Linked DNA regions of Homo sapiens. Each later gene encodes a partner of the first gene's protein in a complex. Each region holds a gene or a part of one and is shown in the gene's direction. Other genes may lie near its edges. The genes, in order: GTF2E2, ERCC3 and GTF2A1.

Evidence for each region.
Region 2: GTF2E2 (region 1) and ERCC3 share a complex: the UniProt entries of both Homo sapiens proteins name them as parts of the TBP-based Pol II pre-initiation complex.
Region 3: GTF2E2 (region 1) and GTF2A1 share a complex: the UniProt entries of both Homo sapiens proteins name them as parts of the TBP-based Pol II pre-initiation complex.

The regions. Positions count from the first base shown.
Region 1 is NC_000008.11:30,647,086-30,657,685, reverse strand, and holds part of GTF2E2 (transcription initiation factor IIE subunit beta), read left to right. Parts: intron 1-67; exon of another isoform or gene 68-111; intron 112-2,501; exon of another isoform or gene 2,502-2,610; intron 2,611-3,704; exon of another isoform or gene 3,705-3,983; intron 3,984-4,083; 5' UTR 4,084-4,087; coding exon 4,088-4,253; intron 4,254-10,600. UniProt on the Homo sapiens protein: Recruits TFIIH to the initiation complex and stimulates the RNA polymerase II C-terminal domain kinase and DNA-dependent ATPase activities of TFIIH. Both TFIIH and TFIIE are required for promoter clearance by RNA polymerase.
Region 2 is NC_000002.12:127,275,047-127,285,646, reverse strand, and holds part of ERCC3 (general transcription and DNA repair factor IIH helicase/translocase subunit XPB), read left to right. Parts: intron 1-5,015; coding exon 5,016-5,200; intron 5,201-6,271; coding exon 6,272-6,474; intron 6,475-10,600. UniProt on the Homo sapiens protein: ATP-dependent 3'-5' DNA helicase/translocase. Binds dsDNA rather than ssDNA, unzipping it in a translocase rather than classical helicase activity. Component of the general transcription and DNA repair factor IIH (TFIIH) core complex.
Region 3 is NC_000014.9:81,173,837-81,184,436, reverse strand, and holds the end of GTF2A1 (transcription initiation factor IIA subunit 1), read left to right. Parts: intron 1-4,106; coding exon 4,107-4,214; 3' UTR 4,215-8,985; downstream 8,986-10,600. UniProt on the Homo sapiens protein: TFIIA is a component of the transcription machinery of RNA polymerase II and plays an important role in transcriptional activation. TFIIA in a complex with TBP mediates transcriptional activity.

The DNA.
Region 1 (10,600 bases):
AGCGAACCGTGTGTGGAGTTTGAGCAGCCGCGGGGTCCAGCCAGCTCAAGACTGTGATTTAAAATGATGCTCATACGCGGACTGCTTTCTAGGCTACCTTTTGGAGATTTGGTTTGTGATGATCCCTAAACTTTAACGATAGTAGTTGATTTCTGCAGTCTAAACAACGCTGCGGCCCCCTTTTCGCCCACCTCCCCACTTCCGTCATTTAAGGGCGAAGCAGCCTGCTTTTCATAGCCGGGTCCTGAGGTGCCAGGGACACTAACGAGGCTGGGTAAAAGTGAAAGAGAGGGGAAGTAGTAAGGTTGAAAGAGGTCGAATGGTGGCAAGAATCGTGGGCTTGGAGGCAGATTTCAGTTTAATTTTTGGGTTTTCCGTGTCTGCCCACGGAGGAACCAGCCAACTCCTTGAGTTGTGGTTTTGTTTAATTGTAAAATGGACATGGTGATGTAGCCTGTTTACTCCATAGGGGGGTCCAGAGATCTAAAACTTAGTACACATATTGGGTAGTCTTTGAAAAAGGAGGAAAAGTTAGGCGGAGCACGTGATGGTGAAAGACAGACATTGCGAAGCTTTCTGCTCTAGATGCCTTTGAACGTTCCCGAACCTCACAGGTGGCCTTTGTTTTAAAGGCCTTTACCAGCGTTCCAGGTCTGGTGTAAGGAGCACTTGAGTTAGGAGTCAGGAGGTTTGGTTCCTGGCCCTGGCTCTTCCATCTGTGCGACCTTAACCAGACAGCTTCACTTCAGATTTCACGTATTAAAATAGGAATAACACTAATACCTGTTTGCTCCTAGAGTTGCGAGGGTCAAATACTGTAAGCATTTAGTTTGTTGTAAACTGTACGGCTTTATTTACTTTTTTTTTTTTTTTTTTCTGAGACGGAGTCTCGCACTGTCGCCCGGGCTGGAGTGCAGTGGCGCGATCTTGGCTTACTGCAAGCTCCACGTCCCTGGTTCAAGCGATTCTCCTGCCTCAGCCTCCCAAGTAGTTGGGATTACAGGCACCCGCAACGACACCCTGCACATTTTTTAAATTTTTAATGGAGACGGAGTTTCACCATGTTGGCCAGACTCGTCTAGAACTCCTGACCTCGTGATCCGCCCTCCTCGGCCTCCCAAAGTGCTGGGATTACAGGCGTGAGCCGCTGCGCCCGGCCTATTTAAATCTTTTAGAGTAATTTTTTTAAAGTCCAGATTGAGGTCCTGCCTTTGCAACGTGAAATAAGACACAAATGTTTCCTGTTCTAGAAATTTACTTTTTGCTCCCACCTTCTCACTTGACAATTCTCCTTTCTTCTTCTTGGCCCCACGCTTTCCCTCCTCCCAAGGCTGTCTCCTACTTTCCTCAGCCCGGTAAATCATTCCCTTCTTTCAGATCCAACTCAAAATAGTAATACTGAAATAACACGTTTTTATGACTTTACTGTTTAAAAAATAACATACACATTTTCTCATTCTTACAATTGGGCTGGATGTGGACAGCTTTCATAGCGTCCTCATTTCACTTATGAAATTGAATGTAGAGGCCTTGTGGGTTGCCTAGCCAGGTGGCTTTAGGAATTGAAACTGAGGCCGGGTGCGGTGACTCACGCCTGTAATCTAAGCACTTTGGGAGGCTGAGGTGGGCGGATCACTTGAGGTCAGGAGTTCAAGATCAGCTTGGCCAACATGGTGAATGAACCCCGTCTCTACTAAAAATACAGACATTGGCGGGGCGTGGTGCTGCGCGCCTGTAGTCCCAGCTACTCGGGAGGCTGAGCCAGGAGAATCGCTTGAGCCCAGGAGGCGGAGGTTGCATTGAGCCGAGATTGCACCACTGCACTCTGCCAGCCTGGGCGGCAGAGCGAGACTCTGTCTCAAAAAAAAAGAAAAAAAAATTGAAACTGAGAGAAGGCAGGTTTTTGATTCACCGTCCAGTGATTGTTCACGCCTTAATTGAAATTCAGTCTGATTATTTCTTATCAATGCTTATATTTAAAATTTTTAGCTCAATGCTTCCATTTTCTCAAATCTAAGCAGCATGTAGACAAGGATTTATCTTCCGTAACCTTTCAAAGCTTAGAGCACAGTGCCTCACAAACAAGATATTTAATAAAGGCTTGTGAAACCAGTAATAATGGGACCAGAGCAATTTAAAGATGATGTTCCATGTGTTGTTCATTTAACAAATATTTATTGAGCTATCTGTGCTTAAAAGCTTTCAAAGTATGAGTCTTTTTCCTCCCAGCTGACACTAGTCTTAACAGTGTCAAATTCATTTATATAGTCAGCTTGAGGTCTTCATAGACCCTCTGTAGGGTTCTAGCAGAGTTCAGAAGAGAGGTGTGTTTAGAATTCTTGTTGGTTGACCTGTAGCTTCCCTGGTTGTAGTGAAATTGCTTTGAGTTGTAATTTTAGAACTAGACAAACAACAACCACAACATAGAAGTTGCCTCAAACCACCTCCCTCCAAATTGGAAATTTTCTGTAGACTTTTTTTTTTTTTTTGAGACAGAGTTTTGCTGTATCCCCCAGGCTGGAGGGCAGTGGCGGGATCTCAGCTTACTGCAACCTCTGCTGGACTCAAACAGTTCTCGTGTCTCAGCGTTCTGAGTAGCCCGGACTACACGTATGTGTCACTATGACTGGCTAATTTCGTAGAGATAGGGTTTCACTATGTTGCCCAGGCTGGTCTCTCAGCCTCCCAAAGTGCTGGGATTACAGACATGAGCCACTGTGCCCGGCTCTCTGTAGACATTTCTAACAAATAGTATAATAATTCAGCCTCTTCATCACTTAATAATTGAGAGTTCACCAGTTGTAAAAATATGCCATTTTATGTATAAGCAGTTCTGATGGTTCTCTTTTTTTGCAGTGAGCCTAAATCCACCTTCTTCTAATTTCTGCCCTGTAGTCCTCATGTTTCTACAGCAGTGTTGTCCAATAGAAATATAATGGGAGTGGGAAGTGTGAGCCACACGTGTAATTAAAAATATTCTAGGCTGGGTGCAGTGGCTCATGTTTGTAATCCTAGTGCTTTGGGAGACTGAGGTAGGAGGATTGCTTGAGGCCAGGAGTTCAAGACCAGCCTGGGCAACATAGCAAGACCTTGTCTCTAAAAAGTTTTTAAAAAAATTAACTGTGTGTGGTGGCGTGTACCTGTAGTACTAGCTAGTCAGGAGGCTGAGGTGGGAGGATTGCTTGAGCCCAGGAGTTCAAGGCTACATTGAGCTATGATCACACCACTGTACTCCAGCCTGGGCAACACAGTGAGACACTGTCTCTTAATTTTTTTTTAATAGCCATATTTTAAAAGAAAAATTGGTGAAATTAATTTTAACATTTTATTTAACCCAGTATATTCAAAATAGTATCACTTCAACATGTAATTAATGTAAAATATCTCGTTAGTAATTAAATAGTTTTTTTCTTTATACTAAATCTTTGAAATCTTGTGGGTTTTTACACTTGAAAGTCCATCTCAATTTTAACTAGCCACATTTCACATGTTTAATAGGCACATGTGGCTAGTGGCTAATATATTGGACAGCACAGTTCTGGAACTTTAGGGAATAATTCTGTTTCTTTTCTTTCTTTCTTTTTTTTTTTTTTTTTTGAACAAGGGTCTTGGTCTGTCACCCAGGCTAGAGTGCAGTGGCATTATCACAGCTCACTGCAGCCTTGACCTTCCAGGCTGAAGTGATCCTCCCACTTCCGCCTCCCGAGTAGCTGGGACTGTAAGCACACATCACCATGCCTGCCTGATTTTTTGTATTTTTGTAGACAGGAGGTATTACCATGTTGTCCAGGCTGGTCTCCAACTCCTGGGCTCAGGCAGTCTGCCCACCTCGGCTTCCCAAAGTGCTTCAGCCACTATGCCTGGCCTCTTTTTTTCCTATAATGGCTAGTACAGTGCTTGGCGTGTAATAAGCGCTAATGAAATATTTCTTGAGTACTTGAATAAGTGAATAAATGCAAGTGCTAGAGAACTAATAATAAAAGGTAATTTTGTTTGGGAAGTAACTTGTTGAGATCTGTGGATTTGGAGTGCAGGTTTGAGTGACTTGAATTTGTATTAAAGACACTTATTTTTTCTTTGTAGCATTATGGATCCAAGCCTGTTGAGAGAAAGGGAGCTGTTCAAAAAACGAGCTCTTTCTACTCCTGTAGTAGAAAAACGTTCAGCATCTTCTGAGTCATCATCATCATCGTCAAAGAAGAAGAAAACAAAGGTAGAACATGGAGGATCGTCAGGCTCTAAACAAAATTCTGGTTAGTAAAATTGTTTAGGACTGTTTGGTTTTTATTCAGATTATTCAGGAGGAAACCGTTTAGTTATGGCTAGTTCATTTTTCAGTTCAGCACTCATGTTGATAGGCACTTTGTTGAATATAAAGGATGGGACAAGAGAATTTAAGCTCTTAGGATGTTAATAGTCTTGTGCTGTAGTTAAAATTTAGGTTATTACCTCTTTAAAAAAACTTTATTTAGGTTTAATTTACATACCATACAGTTCATTCATTTTAAGTTTACAGTTCAAAGATGTTTGGTAAATTTACAGAATTTTGCAGCTGTTATTACAGTCCAATTTTAGAACATTTCCATCACCCCCAGCAGATCTGATGTGCCCATTTGCAGTGACTTTTCCCATCCCTGCCCCGGAAAACCAATAATCTGCTTTCTGGCTCTGTATATTTGCCTTTTCTGGATATTTCCTATAAATGAAATTGTACAGTAAGTGGTCTTTTGTGTGTTGTTTTTTTCACTTGGCATATTTTTGAGTTCCATCCATGTAGTATGCATCAGTACTTCATTCCATTTTTATTGGTAAAGCGTATTCCATAGTATGGATATATGTACCACAGTTTGTTTATCCATTCACCAATAAACGGTTATTTGGATTATTTTCACTTTTTGGCTGTTTTGAATAGTGTTGGTATGAATATTCATGTACAAGTCTTTGTGTAGACATATCTTTTTATCTCTTTTGGATAGAGACCTAGAAGTAGATTTCTGGGTCATATGTCAAATTTATATTTAACTTGTTAAGAAACTGCTAAAATAGCTGTACCATTTTATATTTCCTCCAGCAATGTATCAGGGTTCTAGTTTTTTCTCATCCTTGCTAACGCTTGAAATTCTGTTTTTTTTTTTTTAATCATAGCTATTTCTATAGTTGTGAAGTTCTATCATTGTGGCTTTAATACGCATTTCCTTAATGAGTAATGATGTTGAACATTGTTTCATGTGCTTATTGACCATGTGTATTCCTTGGTGAAATGTCTATTCAATTTTTTTTTGCCCATAAAAAAAACTGAGGTATATTTCCTCTCTCTATTGATTTAATAATTCTTCATATATTCTGGCTACCATTCTTTGATCTGGTATACATTTGCAAATATTTTCTCCAAGCAAGTGCTTGTCATTTTATCTTCTTAATAGTGTCTTTGTATGTACAAAAGTTTTTAATTTTGATGAAGTCCACCTTACCAGTTTTTTTCTTTTATCATTTGTATTCTTGGTGTCATATCTAAGAAATCTTTGCCTGACACAGGTCATGAAAATTTTTTTCTGTGTTTTCCTCTAAGAGTTTTGTAGTTTTAGCTCCTGCATTTAGGTTTGTAGTATATTTGAGTTGATTTTTGTGTATGGATTAGCATAAGAGTCAAAATTTATCTTTTTGCGTGTTCTTATGAAGTTGTCCCAGCATCATTTTTTGAAATGATGATCTTTCCCCTGTTGAATTATATTGCGCCCTTGTTGAATATTAGTAGACCATAAATCAAAGAGTTTATTTCTGGAGTCTTAGTTTGGTTCCATTGACTTCTGTGTTTATCTTTATGCCAGTATCATTTCTCTTGAGTGCTGTAGCATTGTAATTAAGGTTTGAGACTGAGAAATGTAAGTCCATCAACTTAGTTCTTTTTTATTTCAAGAATTGTTTTAGTTTTTCTGCATAAATTTTAGGGTCAATCTATCAACATTTGCAAAAAAGCCTGCTGGGATTTCCATAGGGATTGAATTGAATCTATAAATCAATTTGGGGAAGAACTGCCATCTTAACAATATTAGATCTTCCAGTCAATGAATAGATGGCTTTTTACAAATTTTTTGTAGAGACAGGATCTTGCTCTGTTGCCCAGGCTGGTCTCAAACTCCTGGCCTCAAGCAATCTTCCTACCTCAGCCTCCCAGAGTGTTGGGATTATAGGTGTGAGTCATTACACCCAGCGGTTATTTTATTCTGATTCAATCTCACTTATGAATGAAATTGTTTTCTTTGATTTTTTTTTTTAAATTGTTCATTGCTAGTATATAGAAACAAGAGTTTTTTTTAATACATTGATCTTGTATTCTGTAACCTGACTGAACTTGTTTTTTATTTCTCGTAGTTTTTTGTGTGGTTTCCCTAGGATTTTCTATGTCAAGATTATGTCATCTGTGAATAAGAACAGTTTTCTTTCTTTCTTTCCGGTGTGAACTTTTTAATTTTTATTTATCTTGCCTGTCTGGACTGGCTGTACATTGAATAGTAAAAGTAGCTACCTTTGCCTTGTTCCTGATCTTAGGGGCAAAGCATTCGGTTTTTCACTCTTACGCATGATATTACTGCAGGTTTTTGTACATGCCCTTTCCAGTTGAAGAAGTTCCTTTCTATTTCTAGTTTGTTGAGAGGTGGTTTTTTTTTTTTTGAGACGGAGTCTTGCTCTGTTGCCCAGGCTGGAGTGCAGTGGCGCAATCTCAGCTCAGTGCAAGCTCCACTTCCCGGGTTCATGCTGTTCTCCTGCCTCAGCCTCCCTAGTAGCTGGGACTACAGGCACCCATCGCCATGGCTGGCTAATTTTTTTGTCTTTTTAGTAGAGATGGGGTTACACTGTTAGCCAGGATGGTCTCGATCTCCTGACCTTGTGATCCACCCGCCTTGGCCTCCCAAAGTGCTGGGATTACAGGCGTGAGCCACCGCACCCAGCCTTTTGTTTGTTTTCTTTCGAGACAGCGTCTTACTCTGTTGCCCAGGCTGGAGTACGGGCATGATCATGGCTCACTGCTGGCGTGATCATGGCTCACTGCAGCCTCGAAACTCCCCAGCTCAAGCAAGCCTCAGTCTCCCGGGTAGCTGAGACTACAAGCACATGCCCACCACATTTGGCTAATTAAAACTTTTTTTTTTTTTTTTTGGTAGAGATGGGGTTTTACTTTGTTGCCCAGGTGGGTCTCAAACTCCCCGCTTCAAGGGATCCATCCCCCTTAGCCTCCCAAAGTGCTGGGATTATAGGCATAAGCTACTGCATCTGACTGAGAGTTTTTAGTCATAAATGGGTACTGGATGTTGTCTGATGCTTTTTATGTATCTAATGAGATGAGCATGTTCTCACTCTTTAGTCTATTAATATGATATATTAACATTAATTGATATTTAGATGTTCAAACAACCTTGCATTTATTCCTGAAATAAATCCTACTTGGTTATGGTGTATAATCATTTTTATTTGTTGTGGTACTCAATTTGCTGGTATTTCGGTCAGGATTTTTGCATCTCTATTCCTGAGGGACTTGATGTGTATGTAGTTTCGTTTTTCTCTGGTGCCTCTCAGGGTAATTCTGGCCTCCTTAAACGATTTGTGAAGTGCTCCCTTTTCACCTATTTTCTGAAAGAGTTTGTGAAACTTTGTTATTTTTTAAAATGTTTGATAGAATTCACTGGTGAAGCCATTTGGGCTTCAGCTTTCCTTTGTGGAAAGCTCTTTGTAAGAATTTTTTCTTTTCAGTTTACTCAGATTTTCTATTTCTTTTTGAGTTACTTTTGGTACTTTGTGGCTTTTTAGAAGTTTATTCATTCATCATTTACATTGTCTGAGGTTTTTCAAAGTACTCCCTTATAATCCTTTTGATATCTATAAAGTCAGTAGTGATATCCCCTCTCATTTTTTTTGAGACGGAGTCTTGCTCTGTCTCTCAGGCCCCCCAGAGTAGCCGGGATTACAGGTGTGTGCCACCACGCTCAGCTAATTTTTGTATTTTTAGTAGAGACAGGGTTTTGCCATGTTGGTCAGGCTAGTCTTGAGCTCCTGACCTCAGGTGATCTGCCTGCCTCAGCTTCCCAAAGTGCTGGGATTACAGGCCTGAGCCACCTCACCCAGTGTCCTCTTTCATTTCTGATTTTAGGAATTTGTCTTTTCTCCCTTTTTTCTTGATGAGTCTAGCTAAAGGTTCATCAATTTTGTTGATTTTTTTCAAAGAACCAACCTTTGGTTTCATTGGCTTTTCTGTTTTGGTTTTTGTTTGTTTGTTTGTTTGTTTTTATTTCCACATCAGTATTTATTATTTCCTTCCTTCTGCTTGCTTTGGGTTTAGTTTACTCTTACATTATTATCTTTTAAACAATGTCAGTGGAACTTAATTCACAGCTGAAATTATTTAGCTACTTCAAATTGTAGCAATAATAATTTTTATTGATGTTAATTTTTTACACATCCTACAAGCTGTTTTATAACTGATTTGGAAGCAAAGCTTTTTTAAAAATCAAAGTAGGCCTGTCATTCTTATAATATATATTAGGTTTATATGTCGTTCCAATGAAATGTACATAGAATTAACTCATCATAAACAAAAATGTAAAAACTGTTTTAAACATTAACATAGCCACTCTCAGGCTTAAGCCACTTGAGCCTTTGACCTGCTCAAGAATGTCTTTGCATTTTGTAGTTTAGGCTACAGGTATTGGGTAGCGAATTTCATCTTCCCCACAAACAGGTCCCATTCGACAGCAGGAAGAGCCCTTGTAGGGTTTTACTTCTCTTTGGTTGGCCAGGGTTTTCCCTAACAGTCAGGGTAGGATAAACTGTGTTGTGGTAACAATCCCAAAAATCTCAGTTTCTTAAAACAACAGAAGCTTGTTTCTCCTTCATACTACATGTTTATCATGGATTGGTAGAAGTCTTAGCTAGTTATAGTCACTCAAGGACCCAGGCTGGCAGAGCAGCTGGAAGCTCAAATGTTTGTGAGTTCTGTGCTAGCAGGAAAACTAACTCTGGAAGAGCTTGCACTAGCAGTTAAGTGCTGTGGCCTGAAGGTGACACATGTCACATCCTCTCACAGCTCATTGGCCAGAGTTAGTCACAAGTCACTCATTGGCCAAAGTTATGTTCCCAGCCATAGGGGGCTCTGAAGTGAATGCTTTCCTTAATGAAGAGAGCTGGAAATATTGGGTGTAACAACTAAAGGCTACCATGCCACTCTAGTTCAGGCCACGGTCATTGGATTGCTAGGTTAGCTGTTGACCAGGTCTCCTGGTTTAGCTGCTTTAGTGTTCATTCTTCATACAGCTGTGATTTTTCTCATTAGATCATGTTGCTTTCAGCTCAAGCTGATTGTTACTGTTTTTCAGATAAAGTCCATGTTTTACTGCAGCCTGCGTGCCTGCCTCATCTGGCCTCTAATTATCTCTTAGGTGTGGTATCATACTGTTCTCCTTGTACTCTGTCCTAGTGATACTGACTTGTAGCTCCTCCAACATGCTTTATTCTCTCTTGCCTCTTGGCTTTTATTCGTATTATTTCTTCTTCCTGGAATATTCTTTCTTACCTCCTACCCTCTTTTGGTTCTGTCCTGTTCTTTTAAGTTTCAGCTTAAAAGTCATATTATTCTCATTCTTCAGTGTGAATTCACTGTATAACCTTTGAGTTCCCATATCACTACTCTTTTTGACAGAGCTTCCAATGTGCTCCATTGTAGTGACGTGGTTCCTTGTTTGCCACTCTGCCCTCAGTATCTGGCCTAATTGCTGACATGTAGTAAGCACTCAGTAAATATTTGTTGGATGACTAAATAATTACAGGATAGGGTGGGGGAGAAAGTTGGTAATGTACACTATTAAAAAATCTGATTATTAAAGGACTTGTATACTTACCATCTATTGCCAAGAATCCAACGTTTGTGAAAATGTATATGGTTTTAACAGTGCTCAGTTCCTGGTTTCCAAAGTATTTTATATATCCAAGCTTCACAAATCCTTTTAAAGTTGGTTATATTATTTGTGTTTGTTTCTAATGTGAGAATAAATATAAAAAATACTTTGTGGAAGAGTTATTTCAGACCGGCAGTTAAGATTCTTTTGTTTGTTTGAGACGGAGTTTCACTCTTGTTGTTCAGGCTGGAGTGCGATGGCATGATCTCAGCTCACTGCAACCTCTGCCTCCCAGGTTCAAGTGATTCTGCCTCAGCCTCCCAAGTAGCTGGGATTACAGGGGCCCCATTCCCATGTCTGGCTAATTTTTTTGTATTTTTAGTAGAGATGGGGTTTCACCATGTCAACCAGGCTGGTCTCGAACTCCTGACCTCAGGTGATCCACCTGCCTCGGCCTTGCAAACTGCTAGGATTGCAGGCGTGAGCCACCGCGCCCAGCCGATATTCTTTAAATTGAAAAGAACAGATTTCCTCTCTTCACCACACAGTTATTTATTGCACACAAAAAATTCCATCAGTAATAGAGATTTAAAAAAAGTCTTTTATAATACCTAGTGCTTTTTTTTGTCCCCACAGCCCTCTTAATATACCAGCTATTCTAATTCTCCATATTTGTTTTCAAACCTTACTCATGTGTATATTTATAATATCAA
Region 2 (10,600 bases), on another chromosome or scaffold:
GCAATCTCAGCTCACTGGAAGCTCTGCCTCCCGGGTTCAAGTGATTCTCCTGCCTCAGCCTCCCGAGTAGCTAGGATTACAGGTGTGCGCCACCATGCCCAGCTAATTTTATATTTTTAGTAGAGACAGGGTTTCTCCGTGTTGGTCAGGCTGGTCTCAAACTCCTGACTTCAGGTGATCCGCCCACCTCAGCCTCACCCTGGGATTACAGGCGTAAAGTACCACACCTGGCCAAATTTTTGTATTTTTAGTAGAGAAAGGGTTTCGCCATGTTAGCCAGGCTGGTCTTGAAGTCCAGACTTTAAGTGATCTGCCTGCTTGGGCCTCCCAAAGTACTGGGATTATAGACGTGAGCCACTGCATTCGGCCACCATGATCCAGTTTTAGATTTCCTTTGTACTCATTTGCAGTCAATCTTTGTTTCTCTATCTAGCTTCAGATGACTACTGAACTGCTGTCACTATAGATTTGCTTTTTATGGAAAATTTATATAAACACAATCATACAATATATATTATGTCTGGCTTCTTTCACTTCCCATAATGATTCATCTGTGCCTTAGCATTTATCAGTAGTTTGTTCCTTTTATTGCTGTATAGTTTTTTGGGCGAATCTTTTTTGATAAAAACAGATTAAGGGATTAAGATTAACAAATTAGGAGTGGGCATGGTGGCTGACACCTGTAGTCTCCTAGCACTTTGGGAGGCCAGGGCAGGAGGATTGCTTGAGCCCAGGAGCTTAAGATTAGCCTGGGTAACATAGTGAGACATGTCTCTACAAAAAAAAATTTTTTTAATTAGCCAAGTGTGGTGGTGTGCACCTGTGGTCTCAGCTGCTGAGGAGGCTGAGGTGGGAGGATCACTTGAACCTGGGAGGTTGAGGCTGCAGTGAACCATGATTGTGCAACTGTACTCCAGCATGGGTGACAGAGTGTGAGACTCTGTCTCAAAAAAAAAAAATAAAGATGAACAGATTAGGGTAAATTAAGGAGTCTAATAGAGGTTACTATGAACAAAATGAAATCTGAGGCATTTTCACAGGTAGTGTTCAAAATGTCAAAATGGCCCCAGCATCTGGTTCTTTCTGTGCATGAGAGCTCTTCAGCCCTGATGGGTTTCTGGAGATACCTAGAGATGTTCACAGCTGGCCAGGGAGGGATTGGAGGTCTTTCTGATGGAAGCCCAGGGTGTGGGCCCTGCTGTGGGAAAGTACTTGGCATAGTGAGACAGCACAAGGTGGCCATGCGGCCAGAGGAGAGCATAGGAACAGTAGTCAAGGCTGAGGAAGATTAGCGGTATTGGGGCAGGTCTTGTAGGACCTTGTAGGCCACGACAAGAACTTTGGCTTGTACTCTTAGTGTGAAGCCATCTGAGGGATTTGAGCAGAGCATGACATGAGTTGACTTTACACTGTAAAAATACTGCCCTGGCTGCTGTGCTGGAAATAGACTGAAGGAAGCAAGACAGAAGCGGTGAGGTGAGTTTGTGGAATCCCAGTAAGGATGAAGGCGTGATCCGACTCTGGATATGTTGTGAAGCTTTAATTGACAGGTCAGGTGTGGAATCAGAGAGAAATCAAGAATGACACTAAGGTTTTTGGCTTGAACAAAGGGAGGATACAGTGGGCATTAATTGAGATGGGGAACACTCTCAAAGGAGCTGGTCTGGAAGGTGACTATCAGGAGTTGGGCTTTAGATGTGTGAATTTGAGTTTCCTGTTAGGCATTCAGGCCATGGCAAAAAGGTTAAGAAATAGGCCAAAGAAATTGATAGACATTTCACCAAAAAAGGATATACATATGTCAAAAAAGCACTTGAAAAAGGGTTCAACCTCATTAGTCATCAGGGAACTGCAGATTTAAACCCACCACAGGATGCTCCCATATGCCAGTTAGAAGGGCCAAAATAAAAAATACTGATGTGCGGGTGCTGATGAGGTCACAGCAACTGAACTGTCACACATTCCTGGAGGGATGGATTGCAAAGTGTATGGTCACTGTGGAAAACAGTTTGTCCATTTATTATGAAATTACCACATGACCCATCAGTCCCATTCCTGTGTATCCTGGATACATGAAAAGAGGTTTACACAAAATCCTGTACACGAATGTTTATGGCAGCTCTGTTCATAATATCCAAAACCCAGGTGCTCATCAGTGGGTGTCTGGATAAACAAGCTGTGGTACATCCATACACTGGAACACTACTCAGTAGTGAAAAAGAACAAACTTGCTGCATGTTGCAACCTGGATGAATCTCAAAAGCATGGTGCTGAGTGAAAGAAGTCAGCCTCAAAAGCTTCCATAGTATGTGATTTCATTTATACAACGACAGTATAGTGCTGGCCAGCAGATCAGTGGTTGCCAGAAGTGGGGGGTCAGAGATGGATGACTCTAAAGGAGAGCACAGGGGAATTTTGGGGGATGCTGTCTTTATCTGTACCCTGATTGTGGTGCTGGTTACAAAAATGTAAATATGTTAAAATGCATAGAAGTGCCCCCCCCACCCCCCGCCCCAAGTCAGTTTTACTGTGAGAATTTAAAAACTCAAAAGAAAAAAGGTGGAAGGGTGGGTATTGGGTCTGCTAGGATTGAAAATTGATGGTACAGAGAATCACTACCCACAAAGGAGTCTGGAATTGTTCTGTAGCAGTTTGGTTGGAAGCTGTGTTCAGGGCTTGAGGCATTCTGTCTGACTATATGTTTGGTACACGTTCATGTTTTTCTTTAACCCAAGCCCCAGGTCCCAGGTTCCAGGGGACAACAGCACAGATTTGGGATTGGTTATCTGATGAACAAGTACAAAAAGGTGCATCTCACACTCACATATGTCTGTGAGTTTGTCTGTCTCTCGTCTAGTTCACTGGATGAGTTAGTCTTTGGTTGAGTTGCGGAGTGAAACCAACAAACTCTAAGGGATTTTTGAGTACAGGCCCCATAAGCCCAGTGGCCTGGCCATGCTCATTGTCCCAGAGAGCAAATGTTAAATAAGGGAATGCTAGGAAGTCACAGTAAGTCTCCTGACTGTCTTAACGTCTGCTGTGTTGGGTTAGGTGGAGTGATCAATCTTTGAGATTTATCTCAAAGGATAAAGATTGCTGTGCTGTTTTACAGATTTTTCAAAAGGAGCTCTGTTATGCCTTTTTATTAATGATTCATATTATGGTACTTGTGTATATTAAGTGCTTCCTGTGTGCTAGGTACTGTGCCAGTTTCATTATTTCTACAGGTATTTATTGAGAACCTACTAAGTTTAGGCACTGTACTTGGCACTGGAGACAAAGTGGAAGGGACAGCCAAGTAACCACACAAATAAATGCCAAATGACAACCATGACATAATGTTGAGTGATACAAGCCACACACAAAAGTGCATACTATGATTTCATTCATGCAAAGTTCAGAAAGGAGGCAGACCCCTCTCAGAAGTCAGAGGAGTGTTTCCCTCAAGGAAGAGTGCTAGTTATTGACAGAAGGGGTCAGGGGAGAGACCTCTGGGTGCCTGGTTCTCTATATCCTGATCTAGGTGGTTCCACAGCTGCATGTCTGTAAAAATATATTGAGTAGTATGCTGTGAGTTATTCACCTGTGACAGCTGTCAGGGCTGTAGGAGAGTGTAATAGAGGGGTGTGATGGGGTCACGGGTGTCCAGGCAGAGTCCTACCTGCCTTATCCTTGTCTTGGGTCAGTATGTCCCCCAGTGTTGCCTCTCTGGGGCCCACACTGGGTTGGTGTAGCCATTGCCTTGACTACCATTTCCCTCTAACATGGGGAGCTTGGTCTGAGGTTCTTGGCTACTGTATTTTGGAGCCAGCACAGTCTTTCCTTAGACATAACCCTGAGCTGATTTTGTTTTCTGTGTTGTGTGTGTGTGTGTGTGTTTGTGTGTGTGTGTTTGCATGTGGTGTTGTGTGCAAACCATGTAGATGTAAAAACTAAACATTTACTTAGAGTTAGGCAACCCTATGTTATTTCACTGTGAACGTCTTTGTGTTTTGGTGCATTCAGGCCTCTTTTTCCTTAGATTTTTGTGTCTATTTATTTCTGAAATATCATTAGCCCTACTTTCAATTATATTGTAAGATAAGCATGACTCAAACATTTTAACCTTGCTTCAGAGTATTAGAATTTTTAAAAGGTGAGCCCGTGGAAATCCATAAATTAGGTTTTTTAAAAATGAATAACTCATACCCTTTATGTGTTTATTTTATTTGATAAACCAGAGAGAATTATAATGTTCAAAAGAAAGGAAGAAAAAGAGGTTGCTGGTTGACCAAAGTGATTGAATTGGTAAAGTTTGGAGAGGGGAGTTTCCTAAGGCGGGCCGGAGGGCTTGGGCGAACAGTTCCTGGAGTTTCATCACTCCCGTGGGCTTGGCTTTCTTCTCGGTTTCTGGGAAAATGATGGGAAGCTGAGAAGAGCTGGCTTCTTTCATTTCTTCCTCTCCCTAGATTGTCAACTTTCTTTTCAGTAACCTGGGTACAAGTGTTAGGGGAAAATTCTTTGCGTAATTTAGAGCTTAATGGTATTAATAGTAAGTATTGCAGGTTGTATTTCAAATTGCCATCTGTACTTCTACTGATAACTGTTGTGAGGGGAATGCTGGGATTCATTAACTTGGAGATTCCTTAAGCTCATTTCACCCTCTTGTTCTCCTTTTCATTTTCTTTTGGACAGGTCTAAAAGTGATGGTGAAGCATTTGCCTAGTCATTCTTGTCTAGAGCCAGCTTCTGTGGTCCTGAAACCCAAGGGTTAGTTCAGGTGGTGTCATAAGCCAGTGTTAAGTTGCACAGCTATGAGCATTTGAAAAAGTGACAGTGTAGGCTGGGTGCAGTGGGTCACGTCTGTAATCCCAGCACTTTGGGAGGCGAAGGCAGGGGGATTGCTTGAGGCCAGGAGTTCAAGACCAGCCTGGGCAATATAATGAGACCCCATCTCTACAAAAAATATTTTAAAATAAATAAATAAAAAATAAGAAAGAAAAGTGACAGTGTGAATGCTCCCATTGTTTCCTCAGCCAAGATGTTCCGAAGGGTGCTCACCATCGTGCAGGCCCACTGTAAGCTGGGTTTGACTGCGACCCTCGTCCGCGAAGATGACAAAATTGTGGATTTAAATTTTCTGATTGGGCCTAAGCTCTACGAAGCCAACTGGATGGAGCTGCAGAATAATGGCTACATCGCCAAAGTCCAGTGTGCTGAGGTAGCTGGGCCTGGGCTGGGGGCGTCTGGGAAAGGGCCTCCTCCTATGGGCAGGGGAGTGATCAGATCGATTCCTCATGGGCAGACACAGGTCAGGACTTAGGCTCACCTGCTACCACTTCATACAGGATCCTCAGTCACCCTGTGGTTGGGTGGTACTAGACCCACTTGCTGCATATCTTCTGTCTTGTCACATATCTCACATACCCCTGAATTTGTGATGATTCTTTTTCCTAGCCATGGGGTTTACCAGTCATGGATTTCTGTGGGTGAGGATTAGCATTCAGGGCACAGGGATGAATGAAGGCCCCTGATACCACAGTGCTGCCTGGGAGCCTGGCAGCAAAGGGCTTTGCTCTGATAGCCCCAAGCGCCTAACTGATATGCTCCCAGCCCTGCTGGGAAGTGTGTGAAGAGGTGGCGGTACTCAGTAGCAGTGCTGACTCGTGTGTGGAAGTGTGGCTTAAATGGAAGAATTGCTGACACTACCAATTGAGAATCTGGTTTCGCACACTTGCAGCTGGTGTGAAAATAACTCCCTGGATGTGATTGCATTTAAAAATCTTTTAAGTGGTTAACATGTGAAAACGTCCAGTTCAATAGGAGGTATTAGGTTGGGTTTAGTTTTGTGCATGCATTTATTTTCAGTTGTACTGATTTCTAATTCACATAGCATTTTTTTTTTTTTAAAACAGGGTCTCACTCTGTCACCCAGGCTGGAGTGCAGTGGCGTGATCTTGGCTCACTGCAACCTCCGCCTCCTGGGCAAGTGATTCTCCTGCCTTAGCCTCCTGCGTAGCTGGAATTACAGACATGCACTACCACACCCAGCTAATTTTTGTATTTTTAGTAGAGACTGGGTTTCACTGTGTTGGCCAGGCTGGTCTTGAACTCCTGGCCTCAAGTGATCTGCCTGCCTCAGCCTCCCAAACTGCTGGCATTACAGGCATGAGCCACTGCACCTGACTGGTTTTGTTTTAAAGCTAATTCTGCTAGAGAAAGGTCTTCAAAAGTTTTAAATTGTGTGGTGTTTAAACTTGTAAAATGACCCCTGGTTCTTACTGTATTACAGGTCTGGTGCCCTATGTCTCCTGAATTTTACCGGGAATATGTGGCAATCAAAACCAAGAAACGAATCTTGCTGTACACCATGAACCCCAACAAATTTAGAGCTTGCCAGTTTCTGATCAAGTTTCATGAAAGGAGGAATGACAAGATTATTGTCTTTGCTGACAATGTGTTTGCCCTAAAGGAATATGCCATTCGACTGAACAAGTAAGAATTGAAAACTTGGAGCTTCCTCCAGGCCAGTTTCTCTTCCCCATTGAGAGTGCAGAAGGTGGCTGTTGTTTTGTTTTTTTGTTTTTCTCTCAGGAACTTCTTGGGCTCCAAAGATCTTGTTCTGTGGCCCTGGTCTCAGAAACCAGGGAAGACCTGAAGTAGGTGGTTGGAGTCAGAGGTTAGAGCATAGAGAAAAGGGGGGCTAGTCACCTTGAGCCCAAAGAACAGGGAGCAGAGACTTGGACTGAGCTGGGTGGGGCCCCATGGAAGATCTGGGCTCCAAAGGTGGGTGGGAGTTGGCATTTGGAGCTTTGGGCTGTGTGAGCTCTGTGGGTGGAGAGGAGGCCAGACTGGATGGCCTAGGGGCTGGGAAGGCAAGATGGGCTGGGCTGGCATCCCAAGTACGGACTGGCATCTGGAAGGAGCTTAGAAATGCCCACGCAGTATCCTCATCAACCCATGGCTCCACCCAAATATTTGTGCTTAAAACCTGGCTTTTGTAAAGCTCTGCCAAGTAAGGAGGAAGAGGTCTGCGCTTGCTCCTACAGTGACACAGGACTTCAGGTGCTGTAAGTGTTGCAGAAGGCCAGGCCCTCTATGGAGACAGGTCAAGCTATGTGCTATGGGTACTATACATAGGTTTTACTTAATCCTCACTTCAGCCATATAAAATGTTGTTCCCATTTTATAGAAGGGAAGACAAACTCATAGAAAGATTAAATTTCTTAAGTTTCTAAAATTATACCTTTATTTAATTTAGAAAGACTTTTTAATCCAAGTCAACATTTAGATTATTGTGAAAAACAGCAATTCCCTGCTTCTATTTTCCCACCCACAATTCTATTCCTTGAAGACAGCCGCTTTTGACTCTTTTTTGTTGTTTACCTTCATATTTCTTTCTTTCTTCCTTTTTTCTTTTTTTTTTTTTGGAGTTAGGGTGTCACTGTGTCACCCAGTCTGTAGTGCAGTGGTGTAATCACGGCTCACGGCAGCCTTGACCCCCTGGGCTCAATCAATCCTTCCACCTCAGCCTCCCGAGTAGCTGGGTCTACAGGCACGCACCACCACACCCAGCTAATTTTTGTTTTTTGTAGAGATGGGGTTTTGCTATGTTGCCCAGGCTGGTCTCAAACTCCTGAGCTCAAGCAGTTCCTCCTGCCTTGGCCTCCCAAAGTGCTGGGATTAGAGTCATGAGCCACCACACCTGGCCAGCCTTCATCTTTCTAAGCAATAGCTTATGTAGTAATTTCTTGATGATCAGTTATAGAAATTGCCTATTAACTTCCTACTGTAGGAGTTGAGGGTTTAGCTTTCTTACATACACCACTCTCCCCACTCCTGTTTTCTCTCCTACCATTCTCCCAATATGGGAATAGCACAAGTTGGGGGTTACTTTAATATTCAGTTACATTATTTTGACTGTGTAAGTATGTTCAGGCAGAGCTGTAGAGTACTATTACATTTTCCTTTTTTTTTTGAGACGGAGTCTTGCTCTGTTGCCAGGCTGGAGTGCAGTGGCGCTATCTCAGCTCACTGCAACCTCTGCCTTGTGGGTTCAAGTGATTCTCCTGCCTCAGCCTCCTGAGTAGCTGGGACTACAGGCACCCGCCACCACAGCCTGGATAATTTTTGTATTTTTGGTAGAGATAGGGTTTCACCATATTGGCCAGGATGGTCTCGATCTCTTGACCTCGTGATCTGCCTGCCTCGGCCTTCCAAAGTGCTGGGATTACAGGTGTGAGCCACCATGCCCGGCCTTACATTTTCTTTTTTGTAAATGTTTTTTTGCCTTGGAGTTAATAATTGCCTTGTCATTGTTTTTGCTTGGTTTTCTGTGCATTGAATAATTATTCCCCTCCAAAGTCTTCACATAACCATAAACTCAGTAGGGTCAGGTAATTTCTCAGTTCTGTTTTTCTGTTTCCCCAGTGGGATCCCCACCAGCACTCCATTCGCTTACTCTGTTCTGGCCTGCTTGCTGTCTAGGACTAGAGACACCACCAGCTGTTACCATGGGGTTTCCCTTGGACACTACCCCATGACTTCCCTGGGCCTCTTTGTTGTGTTTCCCACCCTGAAATCTCCACCCTCTTGGTTACTCATTTTGATGGAGCACATGTTCCAGTAGGTTCCTGAGAGAAGGGATGTAGGAGGAGAAGCTTTGGAGACTTCACATGTTTACAGATGTCTTTACTCGACTTTATACTTGATCAGTAGTTTGGCCAGGTCCTAGAACTAACATTGGAGCTTCCAGTGCAGCAGTTTGGCAGTCTGATGCCCTTTGCTTCCTCTCAGTGTGTTGTCTGCTGTGGTGGCTGTGCGTTTTCCTTCCCTTGAAAACTGGTAGGATCTTCTCTCTTTTTGGAAATTTGAAAGTGATATTCTTAATGTTTTTCTTTCATCGTGATGGGCACTCAGTATATCCTTTCCATCTGGAAACTCGTGTCCTTCAGTTCTGAGAATTTCTGTTTTTTTGTTGTTAATCACTTTCTCTATGTAGTCCCTTCTTGGAATTTTGATTCATCAGATGTTAGATCCTCTGAACAGCTTCTCCAGTTTGCTTATCTTTTTTCTACTTTTTTATCTCTTTGTCTTCTAACCCTTGTATTGAGACTTGTTAATTTCTGAGAGTTCTTTCCTGGTAACTGTTCTTGTTTTGTTTGTGAATAGAGTGTCTTCTCGGAGGCTTTGAAAACTTTTGAAGCTTCCGTCTGTTTCCTGCCATGTCTCTTTTCTTCATTTTTTTGTCTTAATTGTTTTTACCTGTCTTTTGAGTCTTTCTGAGTTTTGGTAATCCTTGACTGTATTTTATTGGTTTAAAGTCACTGAAAACCTGGCAGGCCTTTCTGTGTGGCTTAGTGGGTTTGCCAGCTTGTGGACCTCACCAGAGTGGCTGGGCAGGGCCTGGCTATTTCTTCAGGAGGTTGCCAAATGCCAGTATCTCTAGGACTTTTCTCTTGGGCTGGACGGTTTCTTCAGTGAGGAATTTTTCAGTCCCCTGGGCACCACCGTGTGTTAGGGGAAGAGGAGGGCTTGTGGAATCTTTGCATTCAGTCTTGCCTTTTCCCTCATCTCTGCCGGGCATCCCTGGAGAATAAGCCTCCAGTGCCCCACCAGTGGAGGTGGCCTGCCTGCTGCCGGCCGGACCCAACTGCTCCTCACACTCACACACTGCCAGTCCTCCTGTGCACCTCCCCACCTTCTCAGGCAACTGGTGACTAGTTCCTGAGCCCTCCTGCGTGCTGCAGAGGACACAGAGGCGGCGGGTTTTGTATCGGTCTTCCCTCCTGCCGGCTCCAGCTTCTGCTTTCTCTAGTCTGTTAGCTCAGGTACTGTGCCTGCATCTGTCTGCTTTTCAGCTTCTGAAATGTTACCCACTTCTCTCATCTGCTGTTATTTCTTCTCCTGTTTTCTTGGTGGGTTTGTGTTCTGTCACATTAGTGCCAATTTGAGCAGGGCAATGAGACAGTTCCTATATTTACTTTGCCTTATTTAAGAACTATTCTCTCCCCATCCTTCCTCCCACAGCAATGCTCCTCCAGTCTTCTGGAGCCTCACTCCAGGGGCCTCCCCCACCTACATTTGCAGCACTCCTGAGGCTTGTGCCTTAGCCGCAGCCTCCCGAGCATCTGCTTGGGCAGGGACGTTAATTTGCCTGGCACTGTCAATTCCAAGCCAGTCTGTCACAGTGAAGGGCAGCAGATTGTGGCTGTCTCCTGTGTACTAGAATGATCATTACAATGTGTACTTTTTACCTTTTTTTTGTGTCTCTGGCCTTTAAATGTATGAAGTAGTGTTTTTTCTTCTTGGTTTTCTCGCTTCTAAAATGATCCTGCGGGCCAGGCGCAGTGGCTCATGCCTATAATCCCAGCACTTTGGGGGGCCAAGGCAGAAAGATCACTTGAGCCCAGGAGTTCAAGTCCAGCTTGGGCAATATAGTGAGACCCCATCCTTTAAAAAAAAAGTGATCCTGTGGCTCTCGGGCATTGCTCCATTCTTTGCTCGTGTGTGGTGGGGATTCTCCAAGCTTTTGGCTCCTCCCAGCCTTCATAAGAAAGGCATTGGTATCACCAAAGCACTTTGCAAGAGAGGCTTAGGGTTATATGGCAGTGTGGGGCTG
Region 3 (10,600 bases), on another chromosome or scaffold:
GACTGTTCTTAAAACCATATACCATGTGCAGTATAATAAATGTAATTTCCTGTTAGATACACATAGAGCAAGACTATGAGGTTAAAACAAAAGATACCATTAAATCTTTATTGTTAGGAAGTCTCAGAGGATCTCCTTGCAACCAAATTATCCAGAACACAATTTCATGATGAGATGTCAGATTTATCAGGCAAGCGAGGACCTTTGTTTTAGCCTGACTGAAGAATATACTTTTAAGTGTCTTCCTACTTTAAGACAATGGTTGTATTCTCCTTTGGCACAAACTGTACTCATAATATTTTAAATGTTAAAATTGGTTTGTTTTGCTCCCAGAGACATTACTTTACTGTTTTAAATTAGTAAGTGGGAGATAGCTCTAAATGGTGTGCTGAATGATAAATAATTTTAAAATTTGCAGAGGTCTAATTTTGAGAATCAAATGAATTGCTCTGAAGATTGGAGGAGGGTGGTGGCTTGATGTCTTTAGCCAATAGTAAAGAACAGCAGTTTTCTTTGACTGCGCAAAATGAGGTTGGATATTGTTTGAGCCAACTTGAATTTCAGGAATGTAGTTTTGAAGCCTTAACTTTAGAATGTCAACAATGAGTCAATTTTAGAAGAGATCATAGAACGACTAATAAAGCTTGTATTGCCAATCAAATCAGAATCTTAGTTAAATGCTAATAATATGGTAGAGTTCTTGCTTACGTGTGGGTGGATAAGGGCTGATACAGCATTTAGCGAAAATAGCATCAGATGTAGGTAAACTTGCTTTAACACATTTTTAATTAGGAAATTTAAGAGGGCTTTCTCCTGGCTTTAAGAATATTCCTTCATGAAGGGCTTAGGGCCGGTAAATAGATTGCTTTTTAAGTTGTGACTTTGTACTTCTATTAATATAAAAATATTTACCATTTATTACCCAACATGACTTCAGTGTTGACTGTGTGGATTAGTTGGCCCATGAAACTTTGGTACATTTATTTTTTGCAAATTGTCCTGTCCTATGACAGAATGCAGGCAGTTTCTTTACTTGTCTATAGAATCTCTTATTTCCTGGCTACTCATCACTTTCTTGTTTTTGTCTAGCTAAGCCCACGGTCTTTCTGGTTGCAGTCACTTGGTTCATGCTGGAAATACATTTGTATACACGTTTGTAGAATAAATAATACTTTATAGGAATTCAAAGATAAGGGGAGACAGCTCTTTTCATGTGCAACAGATACTGTTTATGATGTCCCTTGGCACTATTCTTGGAGCTTGAGATACACTAATGATCAAAACAGAACAGTCCCTGCCATTGGGAAGCTTACTCCAATCAGGGGAGATAGATGCTAAAACATAATAAATTAGGATTTATTTACTTATTTAAAACATAATAAAATATTTATATGTTAGAAGCTGATAGTCGGTATGGAAAAATAAAGAGCAGGGAAAGAGGACAGGTTTGGTTTCAGTTTTAAATAGGATAGTCATAGTAGGTCTTTGGAGAAAATGACATTTTAGCAAAGACTTGGAAAGAGTTAGCCCTGTCATCTGGTGGCAGAGTCTGTTGTATGTGAGGAACAGCAAGGAGGCCTGTGTGGCTAGACTGGAGTGAGGGAAGAGGAGAGTACAGTAGTAGGTAGAGAGGTAAGGGAAGGCAGATAGTAAGGATTTTGTAAGGACATGGCTCTTACTCTTAAGTGAATCAGAAAGTTATTGGAAGGTTTCAGTGAGACAAATGGTATGAACTGATTTAAATTTTGAAAGGATTACTTTGCTTTCTTTGTAGAGAGCATAATATGAGGAGGAAGCAGAGGTTGCTGAAACGAGACTATTTAGGGGGATATTATAATAATTCACATGGGAGATAATGATGACTCGGCCTATGGTGATGGTATTAAAGTTGGTGAGAAGTAGTTGGATTTTGGATTTGTTTTGAAGGAAGAATGTTAACAGCATTTCCTGACTCTGAGATTTGTGGTAGAAAAGAAAAAGGAATCAAGAATGACTCTTGAGATTTTTTGATGAGGATTCTGAAAGAAGGATGGTGATACCATCAGTTCAGATGAGGAAAAGCTGCATGTGGAGCTGGTTGGACATGCCAAGTCTGGTATGTCCGTTAGACATTCAAGTCATCAATCTTAAGATGCTACATTTAGCATTTATGTAGTGTATTTAGACCAGAGATATAATTAGTTCTTAATCCAACAGTCTTTACCCTACCTGCTGTTTTACCTTTATTGTGCTTTGTTTTGCTTTAATAAGTAAGCAAAGTTTGAATCCAGAAGAAGAACATGAGAGTAGTTTCCAAATAAGATGAAGGTTGTTTGATTGAGTGATTTTTTTTTTTTAAGTCTCAAAAAGCAGAGCTAGGATCAATAAATGGAAGTTGGAGAAGCAGATTTCCGTAAGGGTAAACTCTGAAAGATTTTACAAGAGAGCTGTTCCAAAAAGGAATAACTTAATTTGAAATTCTTTGCTCACTGTTTCTAATCGTATTTAAGCAGACACTGCACAACCATTTGCCAGGAATATGTCATGAAGAATGTTTGCACTGGGAGGTTAGGCCATGGAATTTTAGGAATGAGATCTCAGAAAATATCTGTACCTGGCCGGGTGCAGTGGCTCACGCCTGTAATCCCAGCACTTTGGGAGGCCGAGGTGGGGGATCACCTGAGGTCAAGAGTTCAAGACCAGCCTGGCCAGCCTGGTGAAACCCATCTCTACAAAAATACAAAAATTAGCTGGGCGTGATGGTGAGTGCCTGTAATCCCAGCTACTCAGGAGGCTGAGGCAGGAGAATCACTTGAACCTGGGAGGGGGAGGTTGCAGTGAGCCAAGATCGTGCCATTGCACTCCAGCCTGGATAACAGAGTGAGACTCTGTCTCAAAGAAAAAAAAGAAAAAGAAAATATCTATACCTGTTGAGCATTTCTGCATTATTATATGAAACAGACTGATTTAGTAAAAGCGTACTGGACCAAGACTTGAAAATCATGATTGTCACTTAGTAGCAGTATACACTTGGTCAAACCATTGAACCCTATCCAATCTGTCATTTCTTCTTCTGAAAATGAAAGCCTGAACTAGTTGATTTTTTTTTTTTTTTAGGTACCTTTAGATCATAGAATAGGGAGAACCAGGGGGCCTTCTTTGCAGAAGATGTGGAACTTGAACATTAAATAATTAGTGTGACTTACTGGGAAAAGGAAGAAAGGTCACTTCAGTTCATTAAGTTTTACAACTCCTCTCCCCCACCAAATCCATGGAATTACAAACAACTACGGACTATAAGTGAAGGCAAAGATGGGAGTGCCCAGAGCCTGCCCTTCAGCTCTTTTTGTTTAACTGTGGATGTACATAGTTTTTGAAATCTGGTGTAAGTGACTGGATGATTAGCATCCTTTAGATGTATTTTTAAAATACTGCTATGTATAAGGTTCCATGGTAGTTAGGTCTTGAGAACTCTATAAGGAGTTTTATTTTGGTAGAAGAAATGAGTCCATAATTGTATTACTTACAAATAATGTAAGAAATGTCAATGAAAATACCATTGGGAATTTAACAGTGGAAAAGAATAGTTTTAGCTGGTAAGATTTGGGAAAGCTTTGTGGAGGATAGTCTTTTTGAGGTAGACCTTGAAAATATATATGCAAACCTGGTAGAGAGATAAGACATTTTGTAAAGAAATATTTTTTAACTACTTTAATGAACACAAGTACTAAAAGCTATAAAATAGTACTAATTACAGATAAATTTGTTTTTAGACCCACCTAGTGAGTTTTGTGTGTGGTTTTTTTGTTGTTGTTGTTCTTTTTGGTGAAATTAAACTTTATTAAGAAACCAATTTTTAGGCCAGGTGCTGTGACTCACGCTTGTAATCCCAACACTTTGGGAGGCTGAGATAGAAGGATCACGTGAGGCCAGGAGCTCGAGCCCAGCCTGCACAACATAGGAGACCCTTCTTCTACAAAAACAAACCAATTTGCAAATACAATACTGTAAATACTGTTTTGTGGGGGGGTGTGTGTGTACGTGTGTGTGTGTATGGGTTTTTTGTTACTTGTTTTCTCTGTTTTCTGATTGTATCTCTCAATTTTTAAAATGTTGTTTTTGTTTAGATACACAGAAGTAAAAACAAATGGAAATTTCATCTCAAGGATGGCATTATGAATCTTAATGGAAGAGATTATATATTTTCCAAAGCCATTGGAGATGCAGAATGGTGAAGAGTTGCTTTTTTTCTTTTATAAATAAAAGAAACTTAAAAAAAATGTAAAGCGGACAGTTTGAAACTTGGGGCATATGCCAACCAAAACTTCGTTTCTGCATGTCAGAAAAGTGCAGTAGAAGCAAAGCTACTGGAACAAAGATAGACCTTGACAACATAGACACTACTTACTGGCAAGCCATGGAACTGTAGCACCTAGGGTTTTTGGGTGGGAGGGTTGGGGTTTTGTGTAGGAAAACCATAATTGTTGATTTTAAATACAGGTACCTGCCACCGGTAATTAGCATGTAAAGCTTTGTCTATATTCCTTCCTCCAACTTGGGTTCAATCAGAAGATACTTGTTGGAATGAACTGAAGAAACTTCCCTTTTGATAGATTGAACTGAAACTGCTTATTGTATGTGGTTATATTTGGTAAAAGTTGCGTGTGAGCTTTTTACAAAAGGGTAAGAATTGTGTTGAATTTTAATTCACTTGTATAAGAAAACAATTTAAAACTCTCATAATAGGTCTTAAATATTTTTACTTGCTATTCTCCCTCAGTGATATATACCTCTTCCTTTCCAGCTTTATGAAACATCTATTTAAGATTTAAAGTTATCAGTGATCATAGTTTGGAGATAAAATTTGACCCAGGAATGAATATTTATTTTAATTAGGTTTTCATACTTATTAAATGTAATTAAAGACTTGGGTCTTGTCTGAGTTCAGTGGAATTGAAACCACAACTTTAATTTCCTTACAGAAAAACTTAATTTGTTTCTTTTAGTGCCACACCTTAAAAAGAAACCCCAAACTAGCTCCTCAGGAATATAGTTTTATTTTGCAAGCATACCATCTAGCTGAAATTGTATACACATGAATATATGTAGACTTTTCCTGTTGGGCTGAAGTGTGTGCTTATAAATGTGTTTAGTTTTTAAGCTAAACATTCAGTTAACAGTCTGTGCATTGATTAGCATAGGGCAGGTGGTGAGGACCTGGATTTTTATTAAACAGTTTAGTAATTATAAAAGTTTCTTGTGTTTACTAGTAAAGAATTTTAAAAATCTATTCTAATTCAACAAGTTTTTAAAATCAACTTTGTAATTTGAGGGGAAAATTTGGGGGGAAGAGGTGGGTGGGCCACTAAGTTACCTCTCTTTCATTTGGTGGCCCTTCCAGGCCATTGAAAATAAAGACGTTGGCTCCAGTTTGCACATTGGGAAGAAAGCATAGAAATTTGACTTGTATATTAAAAATAATAGAAATGTAATATGTATATTAAGAATGCATAGGTCTGTATTCTGTAAGGGGCTCTGAAGAACAATATGGCACTGCTGTGTTCAGTGTGAATTCACTGCCTGGGAGAACTGCAGGAATGCTTGTCTTCACCATTGTGTTCTTACAACGAATTCAACTTTCCATGGTTTATCTTGACAAAATTTACATGTGTTTAGGTTACTTGTATATTGATATATTTTTTTAATCTTCAGTTTTTGTCTTCCTTTTGCCTTTGTGTTTTCAGAAGTAACACATGAACACTTTTTAAAGTACATTACAGAGAAGAAAACTGTGAGCTATTATATAGTGTTTCTTTTTTAACACAAATCTTTTAACTTTAAAAAAAGGCAAAAATTTTTTTTTTCTACTTCCCACCCAGCTTACCACCTTGATCTCTTTAACTTATGTTCTAAACTTTGGTGTTAATGGTGGTGTCTAGCATGCTAGTAGTTAGATTTTATTTAGATGCCATAACTGGTAATACAGCTTTTATTTTGACTATATTAATTTAGTTTTTTGAGGGGAAGTTTGTTTATTCTGTGACTCTCAAAGCACACAGAGGTTTTAAAATATATATTATTAAGACTGAGAGAAGAGGAAATGGGAGGGAGTAACATCACAGAAGTGCTGTTGTTCAACTGTTCTTCAATATAGTTGCTAGTAGGTTTGTATTTACTCAGTAAGGAAGTCAGTGACCTGAACTACCTATAAAAATTCAGCAGTGCTGCAGTGTTGCTTAAGTGAAACCCTTTGGCTATCTAGTAGTTTTTATGCTACTGAAACTTGGATTACTGTATGATATTCAGCTTGTCTTGGGCCCTCTATGTAGACAAACATTCATATTCATAGTAGTGTTGTATACTGGCCTGTTTTTATAACTTTATTTTTCAAATATTAACAACCACTGCTTTCAGAGTGGTTATTTTGTTATTTTTGAAGCAGGAAATAACCATTTGTATTTGCACCTGCGTATTGCATATGAATTATGGTATACTTGGCAAATGCTTTTCTTTTACCTGTGAAAATTCTGAAAGCTGGTCCAAGCTACATTGCATACCAAATTGTGCTCTTATATATTATTTGCATCGTGTCCTTTTTAATCAAATAGCATGTTTTAGTTTTATTATAGTAGCTTTTGCTGTAAGAATGTCACTTGCTTATCTTTTATTGTACTTGAATTCTTAATCATGCTTTTAACATTGTATTTAACAAATCATTTCGTATTAGGTTCCATTAAAATGTCATTCCTTTGAAAAGGCAAGGGATTTCCACTTTCAGAATTTGAAAATGAAAGTAGCATGTTTATCTAAAGGCAGAAAATAGTTCGGACTTGGTATTATGAAAATAAGTAATGGTTTCTGGAGAGGATTTGTTTAGATTTGCACAGATGGCGATGGCACCTTTTACTTAAATTAACATTAATCAACAGTGCTAAGGAAAATTTACACAAAATTACAAGATAAAACATGGAAATGTGTGCCTTTCAGTATACAAACTCTTGCTTGGTGGCCATTTGGGTAATCAGACCATTTGAATGCCTGAGAGCATGTTTAATTTCTGTGGAGTGCCACATATGGCTAAAACAACTCTTTAATGTGCAATTAATTTCTAGAGTAAAATGTCTGTTATGTGAGGGGGATCTTTATGTTGGGCTTTTCTATTTTTTAAATGTTCACATTTCTTTCTGTTAATTAAAATGCCATCATAATGTCACATTTACACTGTTGCCTCTTTTAAAAGCAAAGCCACTTTCTTGTTCTAAGATTACATCAAGACTTGAGCAGTGTGTAGTAATTAAAATGTGTGCTTAATGAGCATAATAGATTCTGGTTTTAGGAAATAACATATAGCTTTTATATGAATATTTTCTTTTGCTATAATGAAAGTCACAGATTTTTTTTTTCCTGGCTTTTATGGAGGAATGAAAAGAGTTGTCTCCCTCTAAGAGTATACTATTTTTGATTCTCATAGCAATAATGTCACCATTCTTATCAGAGGGTAAATACCCCTTGTATAGGAAAACAGACATAATTTCCTCTTGGGAGTTCTCTTTATGACTTAGCATTTTCTTCTACTTGAGAAAATTCCTGTTTTTCCGATTATTTCATCTTGAACTTTCTTTTTTTTAAGCTTTTGTGCAATGTAATAGTTTGTTGATCCATCTTTGTACATTTTCATTTTATTTCATGTCTTTCTCTCACCTACCTGTCAGAATCAGCTATAGCAGATTTTGAATTCTTTAGTTAAAAAATAGTTGCTTTACTTGTTTCCTCATGAGTTTGTTAAATAGCTTTGCATTTTAGTCCTCTATTATGCTATGAAAATTATTACGAAGTTTATATTGTTCCCTTTTTAAGCCTGCCTTACTCTTGTCTTTTGTCATTGTCTATGGTTTAATGAAGAACACACCAAACTAACATTTTTGTTTATTTTGAGGAACAAAAAAACTTTTCTCTTTTAAGGGAAGTTACTACACATTGAGTTAGTAACTACTCTTTCAGTCAAGGTTCCTTAATCAGTCCAGTCTACATCAGGACTATGACTTGGGGGGCGGGGCTAATCCTTTTTGCTGTTCTGAGCTACTATTGTCAACTGCTGTTGTACATACTGTTATGTGTAATGGCGTAAATATATTTATTATGTTTGTAAAATTCATTGCAGATCAAGGTTGCTCTTCTGTGATATATGGGATATTATGTTTTAAAGACCATCTTGGAATACAATTAGAGAACTTAGTATTTTGATGTACTAAGACCTATTTTAAGTTTAATATTCTACTTTGCAAAAACTTTAATTAAAGATGTTATTTAAAAAAAAATGTTGCTTGCTTTGCTTACTAGTATATGGCATTGTTATAGATAATTGAATAAAATACAATTTAGAAAGGAAAATGCTTTACATTGTTAATGAGAATTCCATTTAACAACAACAAAAAGATGCTAAATTCTGTACCTTAAAGATAAGTAGATTGAGATGTCAATTTGAATTAGTAAACTGTGTTACAAATGATTAATACTAGCTTTTAAAAAGTTGTATTTTCCAGGCACACAGGAATTTAGGTTGGGCGAATTCACACTAACAAATTATAACTAAAAATTGGTATAATTAACATTGTTTTTCAAAATAAAGATTACTCCTTGTGAAATATTAATAATTAACATATTGTATTAAATAAGTATTTCTACTCCAAAGTATAGATTACTTAGGATAAAAACATTGTTATTTCTCTGTTTAGTCAAACCACTTCCTCTTAGTTCAGAGGTTATAAATAATTGCATATTAGGAGAATTGGATTACTGAGGTTTGTATTGCGTATTGAATATATTTTGTGTTATTTTAGAAGATAATAATTAGCAGGTATTTTAATTTTATAGTTAATTCAGCTGAATCATTAAGAAGCTCGCCTTTTTGTATTTTTTTATCCTGTTAACAGACTATCTAGAAAACATGCAAATTTTAACTATTAACATAATCATAATAAAGATATCTTATTTATTGCCAGCAAATCTTGTATTTTGCAGTTTAATTCAAGCCCCTACTTTGATTAAGCTTAAGCTTTTGGCTTTTGTTTCTCCAGCTGTAAAATGACAAGATTTTGAGGATGAAATGAGGTGTGATGCATGTAAAGCTCTTAGGCTGGTGCCTGGTACACAGTCAGCACTCAGATGTCACAATTATATGCTTAATTTCATACTTATTTGCATAGTTTAAAATTATTCTTGAACCGGAAAAAATTAATGGTCAAAAATAGCAAAAACAAATTGAGAACCAGTGAAAGAGTTCATTATAACCAAACAATCCTGGGAGGGTAAGTTGGTGAAACAATGCATCTGGCTACAGCAGAAAGTGTCAGAGGGAAGAAAATTGAGTGCTGGGTATGGGAGAGGGATAATCAAACAGTGGGAGGGCCTTTAAGCTCCCTCTCTCCCCCCGCCAAAAAAATCCTAAATTATATGTCTAAATAAGTTGAATTTTCTCAAAGCTAAAACTATGATAGAACTATCATTTTAAAAATGGACTTTTCCAAATATGAATGGAGTCTGTCCAGTTCATTTAAGGAGCAAAACAGAGTTGTCAAACATTGAAGATACGGATACATCACTCTGATTCTCACAATGTCTCCTCCACTTTGAAAAAGAGTACATTGACTTCTCTGTGTTGACAGGACCTCCATGCTAATGATGCATAGGTTAGGGTGGCATTGCTGAGTGGGGCAAATAGGGCCAGGAAAACTAAAGTTCACCCAGGTTAGTTGCAAGAGATGAAGAGAGTAAAGCTTTTTTTGTTTTTAGAGACAAGAGTCTCGCTCTGTTGCCCAGGCTGGAGTGCAGCGGCACCATCTCAGCTCACTGCAAGCTCCGCCTCCCGGGTTCACACCATTCTTCCGGCTCAGCCTCCCAAGTTAACTGGGACTACAGGTTCCCGCCACCACGCCTTCCTAATTTTGTTTTTGTATTTTTAGTAGAGACGGGGTTTCATCATGTTAGGATGGTCTCGATCTCCTGACCTCATGATCCACCCGCGTTGGCCTCCCAAAGTGCTAGGATTACAGGCTTGAGCCACTGCGCCCGGCTGAGAGTAAAGCTCTTTAGAGCTGTTCACTTTCAGCAGGGATGTACAAGGGACATTTGTTGTTTTGGCTTCTCAGTGTCAGAATACCCTTCCTATTTTGCTTCATGCCAAGAAGAATGGAGGGTAATATATACCTCTTTATGGAAGTAGAATAGCAAGTAAGAAGTCACCTGTCACTGGATCCAGAAACAGGGACCAAAATCTGAGGTGGTCAGACTGATGCTTACACTCAGGACTTTGAGTCTTAAGAGCATGAAACAAAGTTGCAGGATCAGTCAGAGGTCCTATATATGTTCAGGTCTGGTGGTGTGATATTGACTGGGGCAAGAGTGCTATTGGCAACCTCCTAAGCAGACTTTGGCTGCAAACTACTGTACCCTTCCAATCCCTTTTCTGCTTAAAATAAGTCTGTTTCTGTTGTTTGCAACCAAGAAAGAAAAGCATTATTCATGCAAAGTGTGTCTTAAGATATCACCTTTCCCTTGTAGGAGTCTTTTGCCTTCCCAATTAGCCCCTTCTTCCCATTAGACATTCAATATCCTATTCAAA